Homo sapiens: one gene and its partner. The protein of the gene in region 1 purifies or fractionates together with the protein of each later gene. This does not show direct contact. Each region holds a gene or a part of one and is shown in the gene's direction. Other genes may lie near its edges.

Region 1 (3,500 bases):
GACAGGCTTAGAACTGCAAATAGCAAACGTACTCTTTTAAAGAGAAGTTCAGCAGGTTTTTTATTGTAGAGCACAAAACCCAGAAGATACTTTAAGAAAAGGGCTCATATGATTGATTAAAAATAATAATAGCCAATATTATAACAAGAGTACATATTCATGAAAAACTTGTCTGATTTTTTTAAAAAGGAGATTTTTCTAGCCCTGACAGAAAAAACTTCAGCTAGATTAAGCAAGAGTGATAATATGTGAAGAAAAGCACTAAGCAATTCTTAGCTAGACTGGTACTATTATATAATTAATGTTTGCATGCAAAATAGTTTTCCATTACCTCAACATATTTGTGTCTTTGTCATTCAAACACGTCTTTTGTACACAGCATAAAACTGGGTCTTGCTTTAAAAAAAGTTCTGAATATCTGATTATCTCTGCCTTTTAATTGGAGTGTTTAGTCCATTAAGATTTAATGTAATTGTTGATATGGATAAATTTGAATCTGCCATTTTGCTATTTGTTTTTTTTCTCATCCATTTTTTACTATGTTTTTATTATTAATATCTCAACTATTATGTCAATAAAATCATCTAAGTTGAGGTACACAAAACCAGCTCATTTCATTTTTGTTGTTGTTGTTGTTCCTGTTTCTCCTGCATGATTAACGGCATTTTATAATTGAAGCAACTTTACATTTTATCTGGTCCAACTACCTCATTCTATAGAGGAAGACATTGAGGCTTAGAGAGACCAAGTGATTTTTCCATGATGACATAACAACTACATCCCATGCTGCTTTAGGTTCTACGTGACCTGGAATTCATTAATCAGAACCTAGGACCAATGACTATTTGCCCATTTGGTCATAACCATGGGATTTGGGGGTTACACCTACACCAGAGCCTTTGGAAATAATTAAAATAACCAAGGCAAGTTATGGTTTGCACTACCATTAGCAGAGAAGATAAAACTCAGAATTATTCTAAGGATACTTCAAAATACATTTATATTTACCTGAAAATCTTTTTATTTTGGATTACTTTTTTTCCCCAGCTCAGAATCTTCACAATTTGGTCAAACTGAGCATTCTTGATTTATCAGAAAATTACCTGGAAAAAGATGGAAATGAAGCTCTTCATGAACTGAGTAAGAATGACAATTCAGCCAAAATTAGATACTTGAATATGTATACTGGGTAGTCGAAATACATAGCCTGGGTCCTGAGGTCTTTTATACCCATGTGTGCCTTACTAGATGCACCCTCCTTAGGAAAATCATTTAGGCCTTTCTTAAACTGCCCTTAAGGAACACAGGCCCATGTCTTTTAAGTCACCAGTTTACATATGCTCACTGCACTTTGAGGCGGTATCCCACCTGCTTTCCTCCTTTGAAGAGGCAACTGTCAAGAGTAGCCGATGTGCAAGACAAATTTGCTTAAGGAATTGGTGATATGATTTTTTAGGTGTGATAGTGATATGTGATTATGGTTAAAAGAAAAAAAAGGAAAGAACTGATTCATATTGTCCATGATTTGCTTTAGAATAATACAGGAGGAATTAGGTCAGGATTAAGCAAGATTGCCCATGATTTAATGTTTTTGAAGGTGTCTTATTAGTATATATAGTTTCATTATATTCTTCTGCATAATGTTTGTATATGCTTGAATACTTTCCAAAAAAAAACCAAAAATTAAGTAGATTCTCATTACAGATTGAGTAGGCTGCAGAGCCACCAAACATAAAGATCATTCCTCCCCTAACACCCCTTTGTTCTTCCTCAGTTTTGAGACCATCCAGTCCCTGAACTGCTCTTTGTTTCTTCCAGTCGACAGGATGAACGTGCTAGAACAGCTCACCGCACTGATGCTGCCCTGGGGCTGTGACGTGCAAGGCAGCCTGAGCAGCCTGTTGAAACATTTGGAGGAGGTCCCACAACTCGTCAAGCTTGGGTTGAAAAACTGGAGACTCACAGATACAGAGATTAGAATTTTAGGTAGGTACACACATACAGAGCCAAGATAACTGGATTTGGCCCTTAAAAAATTCTTAAGTTGGCTTTGCTTATTTTGCCCCCTTATTTTATTTTGCTTCCTCTTTTTTTTAAAATATAAATATGTCTAATGAATTCATTCACGTTAGAGTAAGAAGACTTAAAACACTGGCCTTCCTTCAGATTCTATTTCCTTTACCTACAGAATTAAATGAAAAGCATTCACAGTATCCAACAAGATGTATTATATTAGTCATAGCTCTTACTAGCCTTAACTTTCTGAAATTCAGCAATGCCCCTCCCTCCAATATCAGGAAATATTTTCAAGTTACTTACTGGGTATTCAAAACATATAAAGGCGAATGTAGCTGTATCTAAATAGAGCCACAAAATATCTTTAAATAGCTGTAATATTATCCAGAAACAAATAGATCTATATAAATGACTGAAGACACCACCAACCTCAGGCAGTTGATGAAAGAAGCCTTCATACTATCTGTATTAGTTTTCAATTCCTGTATAACATATGGCCTCAAAACATAATGGCTTAAAACAATAACCATTATCTCACAGTTTCTGTGGTTCAGGAATTTAGGAGTTTAGCAGGTTAGCTCTGGCTTGACCTCTCTCATGAGAGGGGCTGCTGGAGGATCTCCTTCCAAGGTAGCTTCTCACATGGTTGGCAAGTTAACACTGGCTGTTGGCTGGAGGCCTCACTTCCTCATCATTAGACCTCTTCACAGGCTGTGAGTGTCCTCACAACATGGCAGCCCACTCATTTCTGGTCACTTCTGACATATCCCACTGGTTGCACAAGTTATTCCAATCCAGCGTATGGAAACATTAATACAAGGAGGTCAGGCTCATCAGGTTCAACTTGGAAGCTATCATACTAAAGCCAAGGACTTGTGAAAACAGCCTCGATTGCCTTCATTTCTCTTACAGATTGTCTAAAATGTGTTTAGTTTACGTAACGTACAATTTATTAAACTGTTTTTGTTCTTTGTTTTTTGTTTTTTTTTTAGACAGAGTCTTGCTCTGTCGCCCAGGCTGGAGTGCAGTTGCGCAATCTTAGCTCACTGCACACTCCACCTCCCTAGTTCATGCCATTCTCCTGCCTCAGCCTCCCGAGGAGCTGGGACCACAGGCGCCAGCCACCACGCCTAATTTTTTTTTTTGTATTTTTAGTAGAGATGGAGTTTCACCGTGTTAGCCAGAATGGTCTTGAACTCTTGACCTCGTGATCCGCCTGCCCTGGCCTCCCAAAGTGCTGGGATTAAAGGCTTGAGCCACCGCACCCGGCCCTATTTAAACTGTTTTTAAGTGTAAAAGCTTTGTGGCATTAAGTACATTCATATTATTGTGCCACTATCACAACATCCATCTCCAGAGCTTCTTCATCTTCCCATATATACACACACATATATATGTCCCCAACACTGGAGAACCTAGATATATAAAGCAAATATTGTTAGAGCTAAAGAGAGAGATAGAACCCAATACAACAATAGCTGGAG
Region 2 (3,500 bases), on another chromosome or scaffold:
ACACTTATCGAGGTTTTTCACCTTTCCAATTTGCTTCAAATGCTGAATGACCATGGAATGGTCGATGTTGAGTTCTCAAGTAGTTGTAAGAAAATCAGCTTTGATGATTGCTCTCAATTGGTCATTGTCAGCTTCTGATGGCCTGCCAGTACACTCCTCATCTTCAAGGCTCTTATCTCCTTCGCAAAACTTCTTGAACCACCACTGCACTATACGTTAGTTAGCAGTTCCTGGGCCAAATGCATTGCTGATGTTGTGAGTTGTCTCCGCTGCTTTACAACCCATTTTGAATTCAAATAAGAAAATTGCTTGAATTTGCTTTTTGTCTAACATCATTTTCATAGTCTAAAATAAATATAAAATAAACAGAAAGTATTAAGTCATTAGCAAAAAATCATAAAGTGAGAATTGTGCATTAAAATGATGTATAGCATAACCACATTTATTTAAGAATGTATTCCAATATCAAATGGCAAATTTCAACAATGCAAAAACTGCAATTACTTTTGCACCAATCTAATAGAAGTTCAATAAATACTGGCAATTACAATTGGCATTGCCTTAGGGTCAACTTGTAAGACATTCCTGAAATTGTGGGAAAGGGGGAGGACCTGGAGTGGACATTATTGGAAGGCAAAGCTGTAACCAAAAGAGCAACCTGGGAAACACATGACTCCTCTGTTGCTGTCCCTGGCCCTATCCTGTCTCCCCTCCCTGTTGTCAGCTACCTCATATGTTCTCTAATCTCTGTCTCTGTGCCCTCAAAGACCCCCCTGAAAATAGAAATATTACTGCTCATTGGTTATTTTCTATCAATTAAGTACTGTATTAGTCCGTTTTCATGCTGATGATAAAGATATACCCAAGACTGGGCACTTTATGAAAGAAAGAGTTTTATTGAACTTACAGTTCCACGTGGCTGGGGAGGTCTCACAATCATGGCTGAAGGTGAAAGGCACATCTCACATGGCAGCAGACAGGAGAAGAGGGCTTGTTCAGGGAAACTCCCCTTTTTAAAACCATCAGATATCATGAAACTTATTTACTGTAATGAGAACAGGATGGGATTCAATTACCTTCCACTGGGTCGCTCCCACAACACGTGGGAATTCAAGAGATTTGGGTGGGGACACAGCCAAACCATATCAAGTACTGTGCAAGTGTTTTAGGCATGCAGAGAGTGGTGGGTCTTCCCAGCAAGCAGAGTGTGGGGAGGTAATGGGGGACTGGTGGCTGACTTAATGGCCCAGGACCCATGCCACAAGGAGATGGATGGTGGATGTGAATAGGAGCCTGCTTACACCCATCACAATTTAGATTCTTATGCTCGATGGCACGGGTACTCTTTTAGGCCCATTTTACCAATGAGGAGATTGGGACTAATTTGCTCGAGATCAAAAAAGAAGTGGTGTAGGTGGGATTTAAACCCAGGATGTCTAGCACTAAAATGCAGGTACTTAACCACTATCCTAAGGGAGTGGCTACTTAATTTGATAAACTCATCTAGTGAATGGAAGAGAGACGGTTACATTTCACTGATGGTACTGAGCCTTTGTTGATGAGCTCATTGGGAATCTCAGACATGAGCAGGATGTGTCTAAGGGACAGGTGGGCTTCAGTAGACTGGCTAACTCCTGCAGTCTCTTTAACTGGACAGTTTCAAGAGGAAAACCAAGAATCCTTGAAGCTCACCATTGTATCTTCTTTTCCAGGTTGTCCAATAACTGCATCACCTACCTAGGGGCAGAAGCCCTCCTGCAGGCCCTTGAAAGGAATGACACCATCCTGGAAGTCTGGTAAGGCCCCTGGGCAGGCCTGTTTTAGCTCTCCGAACCTCAGTTTTTCTATCTGTAAAATGGGGTGACGGGAGAGAGGAATGGCAGAATTTTGAGGATCCCTTCTGATTCTGACATTCAGTGAGAATGATTCTGCATGTGAAGGATCTGATTCTCTGTCTAAGAAAGAAGTCTTTACCTCTTTAAGTAGGGAGCAATGATTTCATTTTTAAACCTTGACTATTTATTCAGCAACTTCTCTGCTCTATGAGATAGTGTAGGAATGGGGATGTGGTTGAAGAATGAAAAGAAAAGTCAGCTCCCGCCCTCCTAGAAATTGCATCTGCCTTCACAGGTCAAGGATATTGGATCAGACCTTCTGCGGTTCTGAATGGAGATTACACAGGTTAGGAGCAGGTTGCACAGTGTTTCCAATTCTCTATAATTAAAGCCATAGACTTTCATGTATTGAAAAAAGCAAGAATTGCATTCTTGACAGATTCTTTCATTGCCTTAAAAAGAATGACTAGCCTTGGGAGTCTGGGCAGCTGGGTCCAGTGTTGTAGACTTTCTCTCTGCTGAGCCACAGCTTCAAAGATTTGTCCTTCTTGTTTCCAGGGATCTATTTCTCAGACAATAAGTAAAGGCTTTCCCTGGCCTAATGTGCTGTAAGTGAATGCTACTATATATGTTCCAGGCACTGGGCTAGAGACTAATATTTAAAAGCCAGGAAATTTCCTATAGAAAATCTATATCTCAGGGTTTTCTCAAAAGAGCTGGGAACTCTGGATGCCCATTCATGATTCCAGTAGTTAACCAGAGTACAAGAAGGGCTGAGTCTTCTCAGATGGGCAAACCCACTCTGGCTGACTGCAGATCCACCAAGCCTATTGTCTTAGACCAGGACCCTTTGGCAACTCATTCCCATAAGCCTGTGACCCTTGCTTTAAATATGCAGGCCTTGTCTTCTCTCAAAAAGCACATCAAGGCTGCAGCGAATGCAGATATCAAATGATGAAGTTAAAAACAAAAGCTTTGCTGGGCGTGGCAGCTCACACCTGTAATCCTAGCACTTTGGGAGGCTGAGGCAGGAGGATCACTTTAGGCCAGAGGTTCAACACCAGACCTTGTCTCTCAAAAAATAAAAAATTCAGCTGGGTGCGGTGTAGTTCCTAGCCACTTGGGAGGCTGGGATGGAAGGATCCCTTGAACCCAGGAGTTCAAGGCTGCAGTGGGCCATGATTGCATCACTGCACAGGCGACAGAATTAGATCCCATCTCTTAAAAAAATAAAAAATTTAAAAGTGACTTCAAAAATCTATGCTGTGATGGAGAGATTTTTCCTTCTGTATGATTGTGATAGCTCTGTGGCCTATGACGTCATCAGGTTCTGGGCAAAGTGTAGGTTTTCTGTTTCTTTGTTTTTGAAACCATTGCACAGTCCTAAGAAACATCACATTCTGGGTCCTGGGCACCAGCCAACATGAGGTTGATATTTTAAGGGGTCTGATGTTATTTGCTGCCTGTTGATGGAACTTGGGAGGGCACCAGGGTTTGCTCATTGCATTCTTGACAGATTCTCTTATTGCCTTAAAAAGAATCACTGGCCTTGGGGAGTCTGTGGCTGGCTGGGTGCAGTGTTGTGGACTCTCTCTGCAGAGTCATGGAGCCTTGTTCAGAATGCTTCCTGAGCTGCCCTGGTTGGCCAAGGGTAAAAACAGCCCT

Evidence for each region. The genes of interacting proteins can lie anywhere in the genome.
Region 2: the proteins of NLRC4 (region 1) and NOD2 purify together in Homo sapiens (affinity purification with western blotting, with the first as the bait; 2 studies listed by BioGRID). This does not show direct contact.

The regions. Positions count from the first base shown.
Region 1 is NC_000002.12:32,233,887-32,237,386, reverse strand, and holds part of NLRC4 (NLR family CARD domain-containing protein 4), read left to right. Parts: intron 1-1,047; coding exon 1,048-1,140; intron 1,141-1,818; coding exon 1,819-1,986; intron 1,987-3,500.
Region 2 is NC_000016.10:50,728,106-50,731,605, forward strand, and holds part of NOD2 (nucleotide-binding oligomerization domain-containing protein 2), read left to right. Parts: exon of another isoform or gene 1-345; intron 346-907; exon of another isoform or gene 908-1,045; intron 1,046-1,712; coding exon 1,713-1,796; exon of another isoform or gene 1,797-1,848; intron 1,849-3,500. UniProt on the Homo sapiens protein: Pattern recognition receptor (PRR) that detects bacterial peptidoglycan fragments and other danger signals and plays an important role in gastrointestinal immunity.